2 separate regions of the Homo sapiens genome follow, and region 1 is linked to region 2. Evidence: fine-mapped expression QTL. A gene starts in region 2. The other region holds a variant in brackets. All regions are shown on one strand. Distances are from middle to middle.

Region 1 (8,000 bases), 43 kb after region 2:
CCCCATCTCTACTAAAAATAGAAAAATTAGCCGGGCAGGGTGGCGCATGCTTGTAATCCCAGCTATTCGGGAGGCTGAGGCAGGAGAATCACTTGAACCTGGAAGGTGGAGGTTGCAGTGAGCCGAGATCATGCCACTGCATTCCAACCTGGTGACAAAGCAAGACTCCGACTCAAAAAAAAAAAAATAATAATAATGATAATAAAAACATCCTAGATTTGCAGGTGAGCCTCAGAGCTGGCTGCTCAGATGGGCCCTGGGATCTCTGCCAGGTGTGGGCCTATGAATGAAGGAAAGTGAGGACTGAAAATGCAGCTAACATTTTTTCCAAGGAAGCTTTCCCGGGGTGGCAGGAGGTGAGCTCTGTGGGTGATGGAGCTGGAGATGCAGAGGAGCTTGTCTAGGGCACCCACAGCCCTCCTCCCCCATGGCAGGAGAGAGAAGCCGGGCTCTGGAAAGGAGAGGTGGGCACAAGGTAACCTGCGAGTCGCTGCCAGCACCTGGCCCAAGGCTCTGGCCTCTGGTCCTGGCTTAAGCATCTAGCGTGTTCCAGCCAGTTGAGTCCAGGGCCCATCTGCAGGTGAGGGACAGTGGGGTGGGGGTTGGCTCTGCAGAGGGCCTGTCCCTGTCCCCTAGGGACCCAAGAAGCCTGCGGGCAGCCCAGCCCCCATGGCAGTCACAGCCACGCTCAGCCCCCACAGCAGGCGCCCATAGTGGAGTCCGGACAGCCAGCGAGCACCTTGTCCTCGGGATACACCTACCCCACGGCGACAGGCGTCCAGCCCGAGTCGTCAGCTTCCATCGTGACCTCCTACCCCCCGCCCTCCTACAACCCCACCTGCACCGCCTACACGGGTAAGACCAGCGTTCCTTGCCCAGGTGGTCTGCCCGTCGGTCCCCACTTCAACTCAGTGGAATCAGCATCTCCCCCCGACTCATTGTTTTCTCTGCTGCTCAGCACCAAGCTACCCGAACTATGACGCGTCGGTGTACTCCGCTGCCAGCCCTTTCTATCCTCCAGCGCAGCCCCCGCCTCCCCCGGGACCCCCGCAGCAGCTGCCCCCGCCGCCCGCGCCTGCAGGCTCAGGAAGCAGCCCCAGGGCCGACTCGAAGCCACCGCTTCCCAGCAAGCTGCCGAGACCCAAGGCGGGGCCCAGGCAGCTCCAGCTTCACTACTGCGACATCTGCAAGATCAGCTGCGCTGGCCCCCAGGTCAGTCGCCCTCCTGCCATGGGCAGGCCCCAGGGACCTCTCTGTCCCCAACGTCTGAACCCGAATGTGGGCGCCGGTGGGGTGGTCAGGGTCGCTGCCTGCTGAAAGAAGGTCTGGTGTTAACTTGCATGTTGTATGCATGGCCTGTGTGTGCAAGCGCTTGTGTGTGTGTGCAAGTGTGAGTGTGTATGTGTGCGTGTGTTTATGCATGTGTATATGTGTGCATATGTGTGTGCAAACGTGAGTGTGCATGTATGTGTGCTTGCACGTATGTGTGCGCATGTGTGCCTGCATGTGCCTGTGTGTGCAAGCGTGTGTGTATGTGTGTGCATGTGTGTGCGTGTGTGTATGTGTGCGCATGTATGCCTGCATGTGTATGTGTGTGCATGCGCCCGTGTGTGTGTGTGCATGCGTGCTTGTGCTTGGCAGTGCTTGTTTGGGACATACGTGAAAGAATCTTTACCAAACACACGAGCTTGAGATTTTAAAGCTTGCAAATCACCCAGCTGAGATCGTGGGCTCAATTCCTGGAAAGATAATTAGACCCTAGAGCTCTGTCTTTGCAAAACACACACCCTGATCTTCTTTTGTTTTTAATACTCTGAAAGGAAGCTCTGGACCGCGGAGAGACACGGAGTCTGCAATCGCAGACTCTGGAGAGGTGTGAGAAGGCTCAGGACACCGTTATCAGGACCCCTGACCCAGCTGGGGATGGGGGGCCGGTCCCTGCTCAGGACCCCTCCCGCCCCAGATCACCCTTTCCCTGTCTCAGACTCTTTCCTCCAGCAGCTCTCCACTGTGTCTCATGCTGGGAGAGACCCCGGCCTTCTTTGCAGAGTGCTCGCATAGAAGTTTGAGTTTCTTTTGGAGACAAAGTCTCGCTCTGTTGCTCAGGCTAGGGTGCAGTGGTACAATCACAGCTCGCTACAGCCTCCACCTCCTGGGTTCAAGTGATCCTCCCCTCAGCCTTCCAAGTAGCTGAGACAGGTACGAACCACCATGCCCAGCTAATTTTTTAAATTTTCAATAGAGATGGGGTCTCACTATGTCGCCCAGGTCCAGTCTCGAACTCCTGGGCCCAAGCGATCCTCCTACCTCAGCCTCCTGAGTAGCTGGGATTACAGGTGCACACCACCATGCCTGGCTATTTAAAAAAAAATTTTTTTGTAGATACAGGGTCTCACTATGTTGCCCAGGCTGGTCTCGAACTCCTAAGCTCAAGGAATTCTTCTGCCTCAGCCTCCCATAGTGCCAGGATGACAAGCTGAGTCCCTGCGCCAGGCCCGTGTGGGTTATTTAATCCTTATATCTGCCTTGTGGCTACCATCTCTGTGTGGCAGATAAAATCCCAGAGGCTCAGAAAGGGTCAGTACTTTGAGGAACTCAGAGTCAGTTTTAGTGACCCAGGCAGAAATCAAACCAAGATGTGTTGAAGCCCACGTGGCTAATTACTGCAGTATACGCCAAAAGTGCACAAAGACAGCCTACTGGCTGGGTGCAGTGCCTCATGCCTGTAATCCCAGCACCTTGGGAGGCCGAAGCCGGTAGATCGCTTGAGCCCAGGAGTTCGAGACCAGCCTGGGCAACATGGGTGAAACCCTGTCTCTAAAAAAAATTTAAAAATTAGCTGGGCATGGTGGTACGCACCTATAGTCCTGGCCACTTTGAAGGCTGAGGTGGGAGGATCGTTTGAGCCCAGGAGTCCAAGGCTGCAGTGAGCTATGATCACGCTACTGCACCCCAGCCTGGGCGACAGGGCGAGACCCTTTGTCCACAAAAAAACAAAACCCCCCAAAAACCAACAACAACAACAACAACAAAACACACACACACACACACACACACACAAACCTACCTATAGTCCCCCATAATCCCTCCACCCTGAAATGATTTAGCGGTAGCATCTTGGTGTGTATCCTTCCAGAGTCTTCTCTATTCCACAGGCAGTCTCTCTTTCTAAGTTAGTATGTGTGCACAGGGATGCGTATTTATTCTATTGCTTAGGTAATATATTTATGAGGTTCAAGACTGCTAAATTCCAGGCTGGGCGTGGTAGCTCACACCTGTAATCCCAGCACTTTGGGAGGCTGAGGTGGGAGGATCGCCTGAGGTCAGGAGTTCAACACCAGCCTGGCCAACATGGTGAAACCCCGTCTCTACTAAAAATACAAAAATTAGCCAGGCGTGGTGGCAGACGCCTGTAGTCCCAGCTACTTGGGAGGCTGAGGCAGGAGAATGGCGTGAACCTGGGAGGCGGCGGCTGCAGTGAGCTGAGATCGCGCCACTGCACTCCAGCCTGGGCAACAGAGCAAGACTCCGTCTTAAAAAAAAAAAAAAAAAGATTCCTAAGTTCCAGAGAGCATGCATACAGTAAAATGTATGCCTCTCCCACGTCCTATTTTTCTTCCCTAAAACCAGACAATGTCTCTGAGTTCTTGTGTGCCAAGCCGGTGGCCTGCAGGTGACGGGGCAGTGCCCACTGTGCCCCAGTATTTTCAGGGGCATTTTTCAGTCTGCAGAATGTTTATTCTTGGCATTGTCAGGGCGTGTTGGTTTCGTGGCCCTCCTGCCACGTCTTGTCTGTGGCCGGCTTCATTTGAGGATTTCAAGCAGCACACCCAGGATTCTGCCTAAGGGCTTGGCTGTCGCTTCCCCAGACGCAATCAGATATTTTGGGCCCAGTAGTACCGGATGCGTAGGCCTGTGACTCACGGTGGCTTCCCCCGGGTGGAGCCCCTGTGTCTATTAGCAGTTTCCTAAGATGGAAGTGTACGTGACTATCCTTCGGGCAGCAGGTGCCCTTGCTTGGTTTCTGACGTTGAATTCTGAAGTCAGAATTTTCTGTATACAGCAGCCCCCAAAAGGAA[T/C]GTGTGATGCATGGAGCATGCTTTCCAAAGAAACTCCTTGAATTCCAGAAGAAGGAAGAAACCTTATGTCTAGCAGTCTGAGCCTGTGGGTTTGTTACGTGGGCTTCATAAAGGGACACTTGAATTAGCTACGCGTGGTGGTGTGCACCTGTAGTCCCAGCTACTTGGGAGGCTGAGGCGGGAGAATCGCTTGAACCCAGGAGGTGGAGGTTGCAGTGAGCTGAGATCACGCCACTGCACTCCAGCCTGGGTGACAGAGTGAGACCCTGTCTCGAAAAAAAAAAAAAAAATTTGAGACGTCTATAGTAAGAAGATAGGCTGGGCGCGGTGGTGCGCTCCTGTCATCCCAGCACTTTGGGAGGCCAAAGCAGGTAGATACTTGAGGTCAGGAGTTCGAGACCAGCTTGGCCAACAGAGTGAAACCCCGTCTCTACTAAAAATACAAAAATTAGCCGGGTGTGGTGGCACCCGCCTGTAGTCCCAGGTACTTAGGAGGCTGAGGCGGGAGAATCACTTGAACCCAGGAGGCAGAGGTTGCAGTGAGCTGAGATCGTGCCACTGCACTCCAGCCTGGGCAACAGAGCGAGACTCCATCTCAAAAAATAAAAATAAGAAAAATAAAGGGACACTGGAACCTCCATGGCACCAGGGAATGGAGGGTTGGGGACAGCGGGCCTCTGTTACCACCGAGTTCCCTCGCGCTAAGCCGGGGGCCTGCAGGGGAGGGGACAGTGGCCAGTGTGCAAACCCCCGCCCAGGCTGCCTCTCACCCCTTGCCGCAGACCTACCGGGAACATCTGGGAGGGCAGAAGCACAGAAAGAAGGAGGCGGCCCAGAAGACAGGCGTGCAGCCCAACGGGAGCCCGCGCGGGGTGCAGGCGCAGCTGCATTGCGACCTGTGCGCCGTGTCCTGCACCGGGGCGGACGCCTACGCGGCCCACATCCGGGGATCCAAGCACCAGAAGGTACGGCCCCGCCCGGCCCAGGCTCTGCCACCCTGGGGAGAAGGCCCCCAGGTCAGCACTTGGGACCCACAGAGGTACCTGGGGAGATCAGAGGGAGCTGGGAGAAGCCTCCCCAAGTGGAGCGCGCCCCAAGGGCCAGCCGCCCAGGCCCATGCGTCCTCATCTTCAAGGATCCAAACTCCTTTCCAGTTATTTTATTTTAGTTTTCATTTTATTATTTTTTTTAATGGGGACAAAGTCTCGTCCTGTTCCCCAGGCTGGGATGCAGGGGCACAATCTCGGCTCACTGCAACCTCTGCCTCCTGGGTTCAAGCAATTCTCATGCCTCAGCCTCCTGAGTAGCTGGGATCACAGGCATCCGCCACCGCACCCGGCTAATTTTTGTGTTTTCAGTAGAGACGGGGTTTCACCATGTTGGCCAGGCTGGTCTCGAACTCCTGACCTCAAGTGATCTGCCCGCCTCAGCCTCCCAAAGTGCCGGGATTACAGGCGTGAGCCACCGTGCGGGGACTCCTTTCCACTTATAAAAAGGGTTCCTGCTCATTGCACAAAAACATGAAGTGGCCGAGACACTCACACCCGGACTTCCAAGAAAGCTTGGCATTCGGGCGTGGTGACAGACAGGGCTTGCCCTGTGATGAGACCCAATGCTGTGTTCCCTTTGAGGTCTTGCTCTTCACACTCCCTGCTGTAGTATCACTGTTCTCCTGAGGCCTTAGTAAGGTCTGGGTCAGGCCGGGCGTGGTGCCTCACGCCTGTAATCCCGGCACTTTGGGAGGCCGAGGCGAGTGGATCGCATGAGGTTGGGAGCCTGAGACCAGCCTGGCCAACATGGTGAAACCCCGTCTCTACTGAAAAATACAAAAATTAGCCGGGCGTGGTGGGTGCGTGCCTGTAATCTCAGCTACTCAGGAGGCTAAGGCAGGAGAATTGCTTGAACCCGGTAGGTGGAGGTTGCAGTGAGCTGAGATCTCGCCACCGCACTCCAGCCTGGGCGACAGAGCAAGGCTCTGTCGCCAAAAGAAAAAAAAAAGAGGCCTGGGTTTCGTCATGTTCGGCGGGGAGGGGATGGAGTCCCCACCTGAGAGCAGGGAGGGGACAGCTGGCTTGTGCTGTAGCCCGGGCTGTCAGGCTGAGCCACCCTGAGAGGCCTGGCTGAGGACCTGGCTTCTCTCCCCCAGCTGCCTGGAGGCTCATCCAGGGCCTCATTCCCTGGCTCGGCTCAGGACAGCTTGCTGAGGGCCCGTGTGAACCCACAGGGGAAAGAGGAATGAGCAGGGAGGCATGGAGGAGGGAAGGAGCGGGGCAGAGAAACGGGGGAAGGAGACTTGGCCTGGGGACCGGAGAGCTAGGGGCCGGTGGGGCAGAGCTGCAGGTGTCACCCCCACAGGCTGGGGCTCAGTCTGGGGGTCAGGCAGGCCCTGCTGCCCGTTGTGGGGTTGGGGGGTACAGGGCAGGTCTTGTACCAGGGTACAGCGTGTCAGAGACAGAGCTGGGAAGTGTGTCTGAGATGGTCCCCAGCACACACACAGTGGCCCTGTGCACACGGAACCTTTGCCAGAAACACCTTGTACCTAGAGGTGCTGAGAATGGGGCACGGCCAGAATACGGACGTGACCATGTGCACACGTGCGTGCAGAACGTGGGTGTCCGTCCAGGGACACGTGCACACCCACCATCCATCCACACATGCTGAGTCCCGGGCAGTCAGGGAGCACTAGGCTGGGGCTTGGGAGGCTGAGAAACGGCCCCACCTGGCAGCCCACGTGGTGGAGGAGGAGGAAGAGCGTCCGTGTGAGCCGGTGAGCCACGTGCTCACACACTAGAGGAGTGTCACCGTGCTAGAGAAGTCACAAGCACGTGTGCAAGGCAGGAGGCCACCTGGGAAGGGCCTTCTGGAGTGGGTGTTATCCAGAGAGCAGGAGGAGAGAAGAGAGGGGGGTCCCTGGGACCGGCCAGCCCACACTCGCGCTGCACGCCCGTGGAGGCCCTTCCTGCCTCTTGAAAAAGGCCATCAGGCTGGGAGCGGCCCTCACGCGGGAGCCCGGCTCTGTCTGTTGCAGGTCTTCAAGCTGCACGCCAAACTGGGGAAGCCCATTCCCACCCTCGAGCCTGCACTGGCCACAGAGAGCCCCCCCGGGGCAGAGGCCAAGCCCACGTCCCCCACTGGCCCCAGCGTGTGTGCCTCGAGCAGGCCAGCGCTGGCCAAGAGACCCGTGGCCTCGAAGGCCTTATGCGAGGGTACGTGTGTCTGTATGCGTGTTCGTGTACCCACCAGAGCCCTGGCCGCCTAGTGAAAGTTTCGTGAGAAAATCTACCATCCAGTCGATTTTCGTCATGTCTTCCCGGGGGGTGGTGAGGGGCTGGCTGGTGCCGTCTCTCCCTTATTCCTGCAGAGCAAGATGGCCTCCCACTGGCCCACACCGCCCTGAACCTTGGAGACCCTTTGAGACCATTTCCAGAGAGTGCTGGCAGAACCAATAAAATGGTAATGCCATTTCTTCCTGTAGAGTTTTTTTGTTTTGTTTTGGTTTGAGATGGAGCCTCGCTCTGTCCTCCAGGCTGGAGTGCAGTGGTGCGATCTCAGCTCACTGCAACCTCTGCCTCCTGGGTTCAAGCGATTCTCCTGCCTCAGCCTCCTGAGTAGCTGGGACTATAGGCATGCACCACCACGCCCGGCTAATTTTTGTATTTTTCGTAGAGACAGGGTTTCACCATGTTGGCCAGGCTGGTCTCGAACTCCTGACCTCAAGTGATCCACCAGCCTCGGCATTCCAAAGTGCTGGGATCACAGGCGTAAGCCACTGCGCCCGGCCTCTTCTGGTAGAATCTGGCCTGGTGCCGGGTGCTGGGGTTCTCTGGAAGCCCTCACCCTGCACCTACAGGGTTCCCTGGGCTGCCACCTCCACTGTGCTCCCCTGCATGCCCTGGTGCTCACGGTGAACAAATTGGGCTC
Region 2 (12,354 bases):
CAGGGTTAGTGGTGGGCTCCCCTGCGTGGGGCTGCGGCTGTGGCCCCTCTCATCATCACCCGCCTGCGCTCCCTGCCTCTGAGGTATCTGCTTCTTCCCAGCTCACGGCTGGCAGAGGCGTGGCTTCCCTAATTCAGTTAATTTATGCTGTTTTTGTGTGCAGGATTGGGAATTCTCTTAGAATGACCATTCAGTTGAGGCCAGGCATGTAATCCCAGCACTTTGGGAGGCCGCTCACACCTGTAATCTCAGCACTTTGGGAGGCTGAGGCGGGCAGATAACTTGAGGTTGGGGGTTTGAGACCAGCCTGGACAACATGGTGAAACCCCGCCTCTACTAAAAATACAAAAATTGGTCAGACGTGGCGGTGGGCGCCTGTAATTCCAGCTACTCGGGAGACTGAGGCAGGAGAATCGCTTGAACCCGGGAGGTGGAGGTTGCAGTGAGCCCAGATTGAGCCACTGCATTCCAGGTGGGGTGACAGAGTGAGACTCCATCTCAAAAAAAAAAAAAATAAATAATTCCCATTCAGTTGAGAGAAACAGGTGGACAACAGAGTCTGGGCTGATCTAGAGACATCTTTGGAGTGGTGCAGGTTGGGGGACCGTTGGGGAGGTTTCCTGGTGGGGCACAGAGGTGGCGACTGCATGAGTGAGACCCCTGAGGAGTGAGTGGAGTTAGATGAATAAAAAAGAGGGAGGAAGGCATATTCTGGACAGACAGGCCTGCCCAGACTGGCATTTAAAGAGCAACAGCTTCTCCCCAGTCCACCAAAGCCTGGGAGCTGTCCATGGTGCTACAGCCACCACCGAGGAGCCACAGCGTGTGACCTAAGCTTGGTTCCCTGTTTTTTTTTCCCTTTGAGACAGAGGCTTGCTCTGTCACCCAGGCTGGTGCGATCTCGGCTCACTGCAACCTCTACCTCCCAGGTTCAGGCGATTTTTCTGCCTCAGCCTCCCGAGTAGCTGGGATTACAGGCACCCACCACCACGCCAGGCTAATTTTTGTATTTTTAGTAGAGACGGGGTTTCACCATGTTGGCCAGGCTGGTCTCAAACTCCTGACCTCAGGTGATCCGCTTACCTTGGCCTCCCAAAGTGCTGTGATCACAGGTGTGAGCCACTGCAGCTGGCCTCTGTCTGTTTTCATTTCGTTTTATTTTAATTTTAAAATGGAAAAATTTTAATTTAATTTAATTTTTTTGAGACAGGTTCTTGCTCTGTAGCCCAGGCTGGAGTGCGGGGGTGTGATCATGGCTCACTGCAGCCTCAACCTCCTGGGCTCAAGTGATCCTCCTATCTCAGCCTCCCTGGCAGCTGGGACTACAGGTGTATGCCATCACACTTGGTTAATTTGACAATTTTTTGTAGAGATGGGGTCTCACTATTTTTCCCAGGCAAACATACCACACCCAGTGGGTGTGGATATCTTTAGGGGCCATTATTCTGCCGGCCATCCCTGAGGAATTCGTTTGGAAATGCACAAAAGGGCTAGATTTTGTAGGATCTTGAAACTTTTCTGAAGGTGAGCTTGTAGAAAATTTTCTTGTGGGCTGGGTGCAGTGGCTCACACCTGTAATCCCAGCACTTTGGGAGTCTGAGGCGGGTGGATCACTTGAGGCCAGGAGTGCTGGGCTCAGTGCTGGGATTACAGGTGTAATCCCGGCCTGTCACCCTGTATCTTTAACCCCTACACCAGTGGCTGTCACCTGGGGGGGTGGTGATCCTGCCCGCAGCGGACACCGGACGATTTCTGGGGACACTTGTGTTTGTTGCGACTGGGGGATACTCCTGTTATGGAGTGGATGGGGGCCAGGGACGCTGCTCAGCACCCTGCAGTGCCCAGGATGGCTCCGCCCCAGAGAATAATCTGGTCCCAATGTCCACGGTACTGAGCAAGAAAAATTCTGCCCTAAAAGAATGCTTGATACAGGCCAGGCAATGTGGCTCACGCGTATAATCCCAGCACTTTGGGAGGCCAAAGTGGGTGGTCAGGAGGTCAGAAGTTCAAGACCAGCCTGGCCAACATGGTGAAACCCCGTCTGTACTAAAAATACAAAAATTAGCCGGGCGTGGTGGCACGCGCCTGCAATCCCAGCTATTCAGGAGGCTGAGGCAGGAGAATTGCTTGAACCAGGGAGGCGGAGGTTGCAGTGAGCTGAGACTGCGCCACTGCACTCCAGCCTGGGTGAAAGAGCAAGACTCTGTCTCAAAAATAAATAAATAAATCCATAAAATAAAATGACTTCCAAGCTTCATGCTGAAGCACTGTCTAGTCTTCCTAAGTGCAAGAAAGCTCCAAGGAGAGGCCGGGCGCGGTGGCTCACGCCTGTAATCCCAGCACTTTGGGAGGCTGAGGTGGGCGGATCACAAGGTCAGGACATCGAGACCAGCCTGGCTAACACGGCAATACCCCGTCTCTACTAAAAATACAAAAAATTAGCCGGGCGTGGTGGCGGGCGCCTGTGGTCCCAGCTACTCGGGAGGCTGAGGCAGGAGAATGGCGTGAACCCGGGAGGCGGAGCTTGCAGTGAGCCAAGATCGCGCCACTTCAGTCTGGCCTGGGCAACAGAGCAAGACTCCATCTCAAAAAAAAAAAAAAAGAAAGCTCCAAGAAGAAAAGCAGTGTGTTAGAGAACTTCAGATATGAGTAAAAGTGCTATGAGTTCAATGTGAATGAATCAACCATGTCTATTTGTTGGGAATAACGCTCAAAATCCTAAGAAGATTGAATACACAAACAAAGGGATTTTAGCAAAGCAATTTTACTTCTGCGCAGAGAGGTGTTTTTCTTTGTCCAGTCGTCATGAGAGCGCACCTGAACAAAGGGGCATGAGAGCCTTTATTCCTGAGGCAAGTCCTGCCCCTGTGCCCTTTCCCCATTGGCCGGGGTCGGGTCACACAATCTGAACTAATCCCGGTTGGCTAGACATTTGAACTTTCTTTTTTTTCTTTTTTTTTTTTTTTGAGACGGAGTTTCGCTCTTATTGCCCAGGTTGGAGTGCAATGACGCAATCTCAGCTCACTGCAACCTCCACGTCCTGGGTTAAAGTGATTCTCCTGCCTCAGCCTCCTGAGTAGCTGAGATTACAGGCATGCACCACCACTCCTGGCGAATTTTGTATTTTTAGTAGAGATGTTGGTCAGGCGGGTCTCGAACTCCTGACCTCAGTTGATCCGCCCTCCTCATCCTCTCAAAGTGCTGGGATTACAGGCGTGAGCCACTGCACTGGCCGAGGTCGTGTATTGATGGTTGATGCAAACACTGTGACTAGAGGCTCACAGGAACTCAACCTCGTGTTTCTCTTAGGAGCGATGGTCAGTATTAGTGAGCTTGGTATTGACTTTAGAGAACAGAATTAATGAGAATCGACTGTGTCTACTTCTTTTTTTTTTTTTTTTGGGGGACGGAGTCTTGCTGTGTCGCCCAGGCTGGAGTGCAGTGGTGCAATCTCGGCTCACTGCAAGCTCCGCCTCCCGGGTTCATGCCATTCTTCTGCCTCAGCCTCCCGAGTAGCTGGGACTACAGGTGCCACCATGCCTTGCTAATTTTTTTGTATTTTTAGTAGAGACGGGGTTTCACTGTGTTAGCCAGGATGGTCTCCATCTCCTGACCTCATGATCTGCCTGCCTTGGCCTCCCAAAGTGCTGGGATTATAGGTGTGAGCCACCACGCCTGGCCTCTTTTTTCTTTTCTTTTCTTTCTTTCTTTTTTTTTAGACTGGGTCTTGCTGTGTCACCCAGACTGGAATGCAGTGGTACACTTATGGCTCACTGCAGCCTCCACCTCCTGGGCTCAAGCGATCCTCCCACCTCAGCCTCCTAAGTGGCTAGGACTACAGGCACACACAACCACATCCAGCTAATTTTTGTATTTTGTAGAGATGGGGTCTCCCTATGTTGCCCAGACTGGTCTCAAACTCCTGGGCTCAAGCAATCCTCCTGCCTTGGCCTCCGAAGTAGCTGGGGTTACTGGTATGAGCCACTATGCCTGTTTCTACTTCTGAAGGCTGTTTTTTTTTTTTTTGGTTTTTTTTTTGTTTTGAGACAGAGTTTCACTCTTTCACCCAGGCTGGAGTGCAGTGGTGTGATCTCAACTCACTGCAACCTCTGCCCTCCAGGTTCAAGCAGTTCTCCTGCCTCAGCCTCCTGAGTAGCTGGGATTATAGGCAACTACCACCACGCCCAGCTAATTTTTTTGTATTTTTAATAGAGACAGGGTTTCACTATGTTAGCCAGGCTGGTCTTGAACTCCCAACCTCGGCCTCCCAAAGTGCTGGGATTACAGGTGTAAGCCACCATGCCCGGCCTTCTGAAGGCTGTTGTGGGAACTAGATCACATTTTGCATGTAAAGCATTTAGCACAATCCTTGCAGTAAATAATAGAAAAAATGCAACCCAGAGAAAACACTACAACAGATCCTTTGTAAAGAGACACAGCCTTCATTACCTAATTAGAACGGCAGGGACTTGGAGAGAGGCCGTGTGCAATTAATTACCTTGTTGGACTTTAGCCAGGGCATGGCAGGGAGAGCTGCACTGGCCAGACCCACCAGACCATTCCTGGTGGCCACACATGGTCATGGAGTTACAGATGGAAGAGTGCCATCCGCTAAATCACCAAATGTGGCTTCCCTCAGCACCCTGGGCTCTCCATGGAGCCTGTCCAAGAATTAGTAGCCCTGTATCTGCTGAATGCACTTCTTACTTTAATGCTCTCGTAATACTCCATTGTCAAAAAGCCAACTGATTTGAAAGACTTCAGCAAAGCAAAAGTTCATAGATGCCCAAGACCCAAGACTTCCTTTTTTGTTTGTTTTGTTTTGTTTTGAGACTGAGTCTCACTCCGTCACCTGGGCTGGAGTGCAGTGGCGCGATCTCGGCTCACTGCAACATCTGCCTCCCAGGTTCAAGCAATTCTCCTGCCTTGGCCTCCCGAGTAGCTGGGACTACAGTCACCCGCCACCTTGCCTGGCTAATTTTTGTATTTTTTAGTAGAGACAGGGTTTCACCATGTTGACCAGGCTCGTCTTGAACTCGTGACCTCAGGTGATCCGCCCGCCTCAGCCTCCCAAAGTGCTGGGATTACAGGCATGAGCCACTGCGCCAGGCCCCTTTTATGTTTTTTGTTTGTTTGTTTGTTTTGAGACGGGGGTCTGGCTCTGTCACCCAGGCTGGAGTGCAGTGGTGAGATCTTGGCTCACTGTAACCTCTGCCTCCTGGGCTCAAGTGATCCTCCCGCCTCAGCCTCCTGAGTAGCTGGGACCACAGGCACCTGCCACCATGCCTATCTAACAGAAGCCCAAGACTTCTATGATGCTTTTTGGAATCTAGTGTTCAAAGTGGGCGTCTTAGTCTGTTCAGGGTGCTATAACAAAGCCAGGCGCAGTGGCTCACGCCTATAATCCCAGCACTTTGGGAGACCGAGGCGGGTGGATCACCTGAGCTCAGGAGTTTGATACCAGCCTGGCCAACATGGTGAAACCCCGTCTCTACTAAAAATACAAAAATTAGCCGGGTGTGGTGGCGCATGCCAGTAATCCCAGCTACTCGGGAGGCTGAGGTTGGAGGATCGCCAAAGCCTGGGAGGCGGAGGTTGCAGTGAGCTGAAATTGTGCTATTGCACTCCAGCGACAGAGCGAGATTCCTTCTCAAAACAAAACAAAACAAACCAACAAACAAATAAACAAAAAAGCTGCCTAGTGAATGGAGGGAAAGGCTTAGGCAGAAGCCCCGTTACTTTACGTGGGGCCCTTCAGAAGTCGCTGGGCTCAGTAGGTTCCTAGCCGTGTTTGAGAGTCGGCTTTTCTAAGAGATACTCATGCAGCCCAGCCTCTGGGCCCCCCAGCTTCCGGGCCGGCCAGCCTGTGGAGGTTGGTCAGGTGGTCACCCATCTTCTTCTTCTTTTTTTTTTGGAGAGCCTCACTCTATTCCCCAGGCTGGAGTGCAGTAGCGTGATCTCGGCTCACTGCATCCCCTGCCTCTTGGGTTCAAGCGATTCTCATGCCTCAGCCTCTTGAGTAGCTCACCACGCCCGGCTAATTTTTGTATTTTTAGAAGAACTGGAGTTTCGCCATGTTGGCCAGGCTGGTCTCAAACTCCTGACCTCAGGTGATCTGCCTGCCTCGGTCTCCCAAAGTGCAGGGATTACAGGTGTGAGCCACCGCGTGCAGCCCACTTCCTCATCTCGGAAGTGACTCTCCAGGAAGTCACAGAGATGGGGGTCTGTAGGGGCGGAACCCAGTGCATGAAGATCCAAAAGACTCTGGTTGAGATTTTTCCCCGGGGCCATGGCGGCTTCCATGGCTTCCAGGGTTTTACCCCACTCATCTTGACCTGGCTTCAGGATGTCCTGGAAGACAGCAGGGCCACCACGCTGGTTTTGCATCTTCAGGAGACGCTCAACACCCTTGCGCTTCTCCTTGGCCAATTCATGGAAGAAGTAAGCCCCGCATTCCGGAGCCACATCTTGGTGATCGAAATAGAAGCGCAGACGATGGCTCACGCCTGTAATCCCAGCACTTTGGGAGGCCGAGGCAGGCGGATCATGAGGTCGGGAGATCGAGACCATCCTGGCTAACACGGTGAAACCCCGTCTCTACTAAAAATACAAAAAAATTAGCCAGGCGTGGTGGTGGGCGCCTGTAGTCCCAGCTACTCGGGAGGCTGAGGCGGGAGAATGGCGTGAACCTAGGAGGCGGAGCTTGCAGTGAGCAGAGATCGCACCACTGCACTCCAGCCTGGGCGACAGAGCCAGACTCCGTCTCAAAAAAAAAACAAGCAAAAAAAAAAAAAAAAAAACCCGCAGAGGGAGGAGGTGTAGGAGGCCCGCAGGTGCAAACTGACCAGGCGGTTGACGGCTGCCTCCACCGCGGTGGAATAATTCTGACGAATCTGGGAGCTCATGGTTGGTCGGCAAGAAGGAGCTAACCAAAAAAACGGCGTTGGTTGGTCCGAGAAGCAGGAGATGGCTGAGCCGATGCTCCTGGAGGTTGCAAGAAGAGAGGAAATCAGCGGGTGGTCGGAGGCTGGAAGTGAGTTCCCGGATCTGTTCCATCCAAACACTGTGGAAGCAAGAGACGGATCCGCGGGACCGCCAAACACGCTGCTGCTTGTCAGGTTTCAATACTGTCAAGTGACTCTCCCTCCCCCTCCTTCCAGGCTGCAGTCTTGGGAAGGAAGTCACTATGCACAACCCACACTCAAGAGGTGTAGAGTTACTCTCTATCTCCTTAAGCGCAGTGTAGCTACACAAATTAGGAATTCTTCTGCATAAGAGATTTGTCTGTTTGCCTCCATTTATTTGTTTATTCATTCAATTCTTTCTCTCTCTCTCTCTCTCTCTCTTCTTTCCTTCCCTTCCCTCCCTCCCTGCTCCTCTCCCTCTCCTCTTTTATTATTTATTTATTTATTTTTTTATTTTTTATTTTTTTATTTTTTTGAGACGGTGTATTGCTCTGTTGCCCAGGCTGGAGTACAGTGGTGTGATCTCGGCTCGCTGCATCCTCCACCTCCTGGGTTAGGTAATTCTCCTGCCTCAGCCTCCCGAGTAGCTGGGATTACAGGTGTGCCCCACCACGCCTGGCTAATTTTTTTTTTTGTATTTTTAGTAGAGACAGGGTTTTGCCATGTTGGCTAGGCTGCTCTTGAACTCCTGACCTTGGGTGAGCTGCCCACCTCGCCTTCCCAAAGTGCTGGGATTACAGGCGTGAGCCACCACGCCCAGCCCTTTCTTTCTTTTCTCTTTTTTGAGACAGGGTCTCACTCTGGAGTGCAGTGGTACAGTCACAGATCACTGCAGCCTTGACAGCCCAGGCTCAAGTGATCCTCCCACCTTAGCCTCCTGAGTAGCTGGGACCACAGGCATGTACCACCATGACCAGCTAATTAAAAAAAAATTGTAGAAACAGGGTCTTGCTATGTTGCCCAGGCTAGTCTCAAAGTCCTAGGGCTCAAGATCCTCCTGCCTCCGCCTCTCAAAATGTTGGGATTACAGACGTGAGCCACTGTGCCCGGCCTATCATTTATTTATATCACGTTGTGAACACAGGAGGCAGAGACCATGGGGGCCTTCTGAAGAGTCATTCTGAGGCTAGATGCAGTGGCTCACGTCTGTAATCCCAGCACTTTTGGAGGCCAAGGCAAGATTATTTGAGGCCAGGAGTTCAACATCAGCCTGGGCAACATAGCAAGACACTGTCTCTACAAAAAATTTAAAAATTAGCTGGCTGTGGTGGTGGTGGGGCTTGAGCAGAGACCTCCACATCTGAGTGGTTAAAGAGAAGGTGGGGCTCGGAGACAGAGGTAGGGCTTGTGCAGAGACCATATCTGAGCAGGTAAAGGGAAGGCGGGGCTCCGAGAAAGAGGCGGGGCTTGTGGCATGGGTGGGGCTTGAGCAGAGACCTCCACACCTGAATGGTTAAAGGGAAGGTACGGTTCCAAAAAAAGGCGGGGCTTGTGGCATGGGTGGGGGTTGAGCAGAGATCACATCTGAGTGGGTAAAGGGAAGGCAGGGCTCTGAGTAAGAGGCGGGGCTTGTAGCATGGGCGGGACTTGATCAGATACCACCACATCTGAGTGGTTAAAGGGAATGTGGGGCTCCGAGAAAGAGGCAGGGCTTCTAGCATGGGCGGGGCTTGAGCAGAGACCTCCACATTTGAGTGGTTAAGAGGAGGGCGGGGCTCTGCGTAGGAGGCGGGGCCTCGGGGCAGGTGTGGTCGCGGGGCGGTGTCTCCCTAGCCTAAGAGAAGGAAGCGAGAAGGTGAGGGCTTCGCGCAGGGGGCGGAGCTTGGGGCGCGTGGCCAGGCGCGAGCGGCACGCGGCTCGGGGGCGGGGCGGGTGACGTCGCGGGTCCGCCAGGCTCGGGGAAGACGCCAAGATGGCGACGAGTCAGTATTTCGACTTCGCGCAGGGCGGCGGCCCGCAGTACAGGTAACTGCCCCGCCGCGCCAGCCCCCGCCAGTCCCGGCCCCTGCAGCCTGGCCGGGACCCCGCCTACCCCTTCTCCCGCCGCGTGCGCCCGGCCCGGCCCCAGTCCCAGCCCCAACCTGGAACCCCGGCCTGAGGGAAGCCGCGGCGCCGGGAGAAGCAGGCGGGGCGGCCTCAGGTTAGGCACCGGGCGGGATGCGGGCTCCGGGGCTCCGGCTGAGACGTCTCTGCAGCCAACGGTGTCTGTCGGCGGGAGCGGGAGGGGGCTCCTGAAGTGGGAGGGGGCCTGGGTTTGGGCCTGGGCCTGTGCGGGGTCGGGGGGGTCAGCCCCTGATGGGGGCGCCACGAGGAGGGCAGCGAGAGGGGACAGACCCGGGCGGGGGGTGGGTGGTCTGACCGAGGAGGGGAGGGGACGGAACTGACCCAATGCAGGGAGGAGACCTGGGAGGTGCCTGGCCGGGGAGTGGGTGGGGATGGGCAGAGGGGAGCTGACCCCTGATTGCTGGTAGGGGAAGAGAAGACACAGACCTAGGAGGGTGTCTGGCTGGGCAGGAGGAGGGGAAGGGCAGAGGGGCATTGACCCCCGATTGCGGGGGGAGGAGAAGACACAGACCTGGGAGGGTGCCTGGCCGGGCAGGGGGATGGACAGAGGGTAGCTGACCCCCGATTACTTGTAGGGGAGGAGAAAACAGAGATCAGCGAGGGTTCCTGGCTGGGCAGGAGGAAGCCACAGTCGAGGGGTGAGGAATTGGCCCCTGATGGGGGTAAGAGAGAAGACAGAAACCTGGGAGGGTGTCTGGCTGGACAGGGGGAGAGCTAGAGCGGAGCTGACCCCGATTGCTGGTAGGGGGAGAGAATTCAGACCTGGGAGGGTGTCTGGCTGGGCAGGAGGAGGGGAAGGGCAGAGGGGCGTTAATCCCCGATTGCTGGAGGAGGAGAAGGCAGAGACCTGGGAAGTTTCCCGACTGGGCAGGGGGCAGCAACATTCGAGTGTGGAGGGCACTGACCCCTGATGGTGGGGGTAGGAGAGAAGGCAGAGACCTGGGAGGGTACCTAGCAGGCAGGGGCAGAGACCTGGGGTGGGGTGTGGAGTAGGGGTGGGAACCTGACCCCTGATGTGGGGTGGAGGAGAGAAGACAGAGACCTGGGAGGTTACCCCAGGGAGGGGCGGAAACCGAGGTTGGTGGGGAACTGAGGCCTGACTGGGGAAGGGGGACAGAGACTTGGCGGGAAGCCAGTATTATGTGGGAGGAGGTCCTGAGGTCAAATAAGAGGGTGGGCACCTGGGTTTCCAGGGAACTGGGACCCTGCTGGGACAGTGAGGAGGGAGAAAGGGCCCTGAGTGTTGTGATATTTAAGATCCTTTTCTAGGTCTTAAATATGTGGTCGTTTGGGAGGGGAGGGAGAGAAAGGATCCTGGAGGAGAGATGGCAGGGGATGGGGACACACTGGGAACTGGCCAGGGGCAGAAGGGCTCAGAGGGTAGGGACACACACGGGGTAAGTTTGTGCCCCAAGTGTACAAACACACACTCTACACTGTTCTCCCAGGCCTGCTCCTCGGAGCATCTCTGCTATCTTCAGCCCGTCCATCTGCCCCCAAGACTGGAGTCCCAGTCCGGGAGCCAGGGCTGGCATCTCTGAGGGGACCAGATTCCCCCCCCAACAGTTGATCATTTCCGCGTGTCACCCTTGTGTTAGTTTCCAGCTGGTAGCTTGCTATAACCTTGTTTCTCACAGTCCCTGCTGAGCCCCCACAGATACAAACCACCCCTTGGGCACCTCATAGAGGGGCCTCTGCTGAGCTCAGGGGGGTCTTTGCCCCCCGCGGTGTTCCTACTGCATTTCAGCACATGGAAGAGAGATCCAGGCTGGTGTTTCAGCTTCCCGCGGTGGAGCGGCAGTGCCGACCCTTCCACCAGTGCTGTGATATTGCTGTGCCCTTTCTAATGGAATCACAAAGAGAAACCACCCAGGGCTTGGAAACCAGGGCTGTGGGAATGAGGAGTGCATCTGTTTCCTGCACTCGGAGTGGTTTCTCTGGTGGAGTATTTGACTAGTAATGGATTTCCTATTAGGGAAAGAATCTATGACCTGCTGATTTCCCAGAATGGAGCATTTAATTTTTATTTGATCTTTTCTTTTGCTTCCTTCATCCTCAGTGGTGTTTTGATTGCCAGGGCTCAGTTAAAGCGGCTGGACTTGGCTAGCGATCCAGGCTAGTACAAACTTCTGGACACACTCCACCCCTCTGCCTGCTAGCTCTTCCTTCTTTTCTCTTTCTCTTCTTTCTTTCTCCATTGTATTCTTCCATCAGACGTGGAAAATCACTTGAATATTATGCTTGCTATTAAAATTACCTTCCAGAGGAGAAATTGAATGTTTATGTTGTTCAAATAGGTGATTGCTAAGCTTCAGTAGAGGCTTCTGTCATTGATTTGAATTAACGTGCTTATACATTTTAGCACAGCTACCTTCTGTGTTCTGATGGCTTAGGTGATACAGTATACACGCAACCCATTTTAGCACAGCTACCTTCTGTGTTCTGATGGCTTAGGTGATACAGTATACACGCAACCCGGTGTTGAGTTGTTGAGTTAGTCCGTCCTTAGAATTGCCGCAGAGAGAATGTGTTCTTCCTTAAGAAAATAGTAAGCTATTAACTAAAAATAACACAGGAATCATAGCAAAATACATTTCATTCTCACAAAACCTTGAAACAAGATGATAGGCATTATTTGAATGACTTTAGGTTAACTAGACATTCTTTCTTGTGGGAAATGACTTTTGTTTGGAAACTTTGGCTGCTTTTAAAGTACGTATGTTTTGGCCAGGCGCGGTGACTCAGCCTGTAAACCCAGCACTTTGGGAGGCCGAGGCAAGCGGATCGCTTGAGGTCAGGAGTTCGAGACCAGCCTGGCCAACATGGTGAAACCCTGTCTCTCCTAAAAATACAAAAATTAGCCGGGCGTGGTGTCGCGCGCCTGTAATCCCAGTTACTCGGGAGGCTGAGGCAGGAGAATCTCTTGAACGCGGGAGGTGGAGGTTGCTGTGAGCTGAGATCATCACGTTACTGCACTCCAGCCTGGGCGACAGGGTGAGACTGTCTCAAACAAACAAAAAAGTACCTATGGTTTATATAACCTGCCATGAGAAAACTGATGAGATACCAGATTTTGTGTACCAATTTTATGGCAGCATTTGGACAGCAGTATTTACAACACCTGTTTCAAGAATTGCCAAAACAAAGGCAGCAATTCATTTTTTAGGAGTTTTGGGTAGGTTTTCTTAGCTTATAAAATTGATAACCAGGCCAGGCATGGTGGCTCATGCCTGTCGCTCCAGCACTTTCGAAGGCCAAGACAGGAGGATCACTTGAGCCCAGGAGTTTGACATTAGCCTGGGCAAAATGATGAGACCTTTCCCCC

The links.
Region 1: its variant is fine-mapped to the expression of ZFR2 in testis (GTEx, PIP above 0.99).

What each region holds. Positions count from the first base shown.
Region 1 is chr19:3,824,515-3,832,514 of GRCh38, reverse strand. It overlaps ZFR2 (zinc finger RNA binding protein 2), which reads left to right. Exons shown (of 19, transcript NM_015174.2): 4 at 637-855; 5 at 959-1,212; 6 at 4,862-5,044; 7 at 7,108-7,285. Among named protein-coding and RNA genes, the nearest start is that of ZFR2, 41 kb to the left of the region's middle. RefSeq lists an enhancer at 673-1,262. The variant T/C (reference allele first, on the strand shown) is at 4,080.
Region 2 is chr19:3,865,541-3,877,894 of GRCh38, reverse strand. It overlaps ZFR2 (zinc finger RNA binding protein 2), which reads left to right and starts at 8,857. Exons shown (of 19, transcript NM_015174.2): 1 at 8,857-8,930. The coding sequence starts at 8,878. It also overlaps the pseudogene FTLP5. RefSeq lists silencers at 687-887, 650-944 and an enhancer at 6,271-6,770.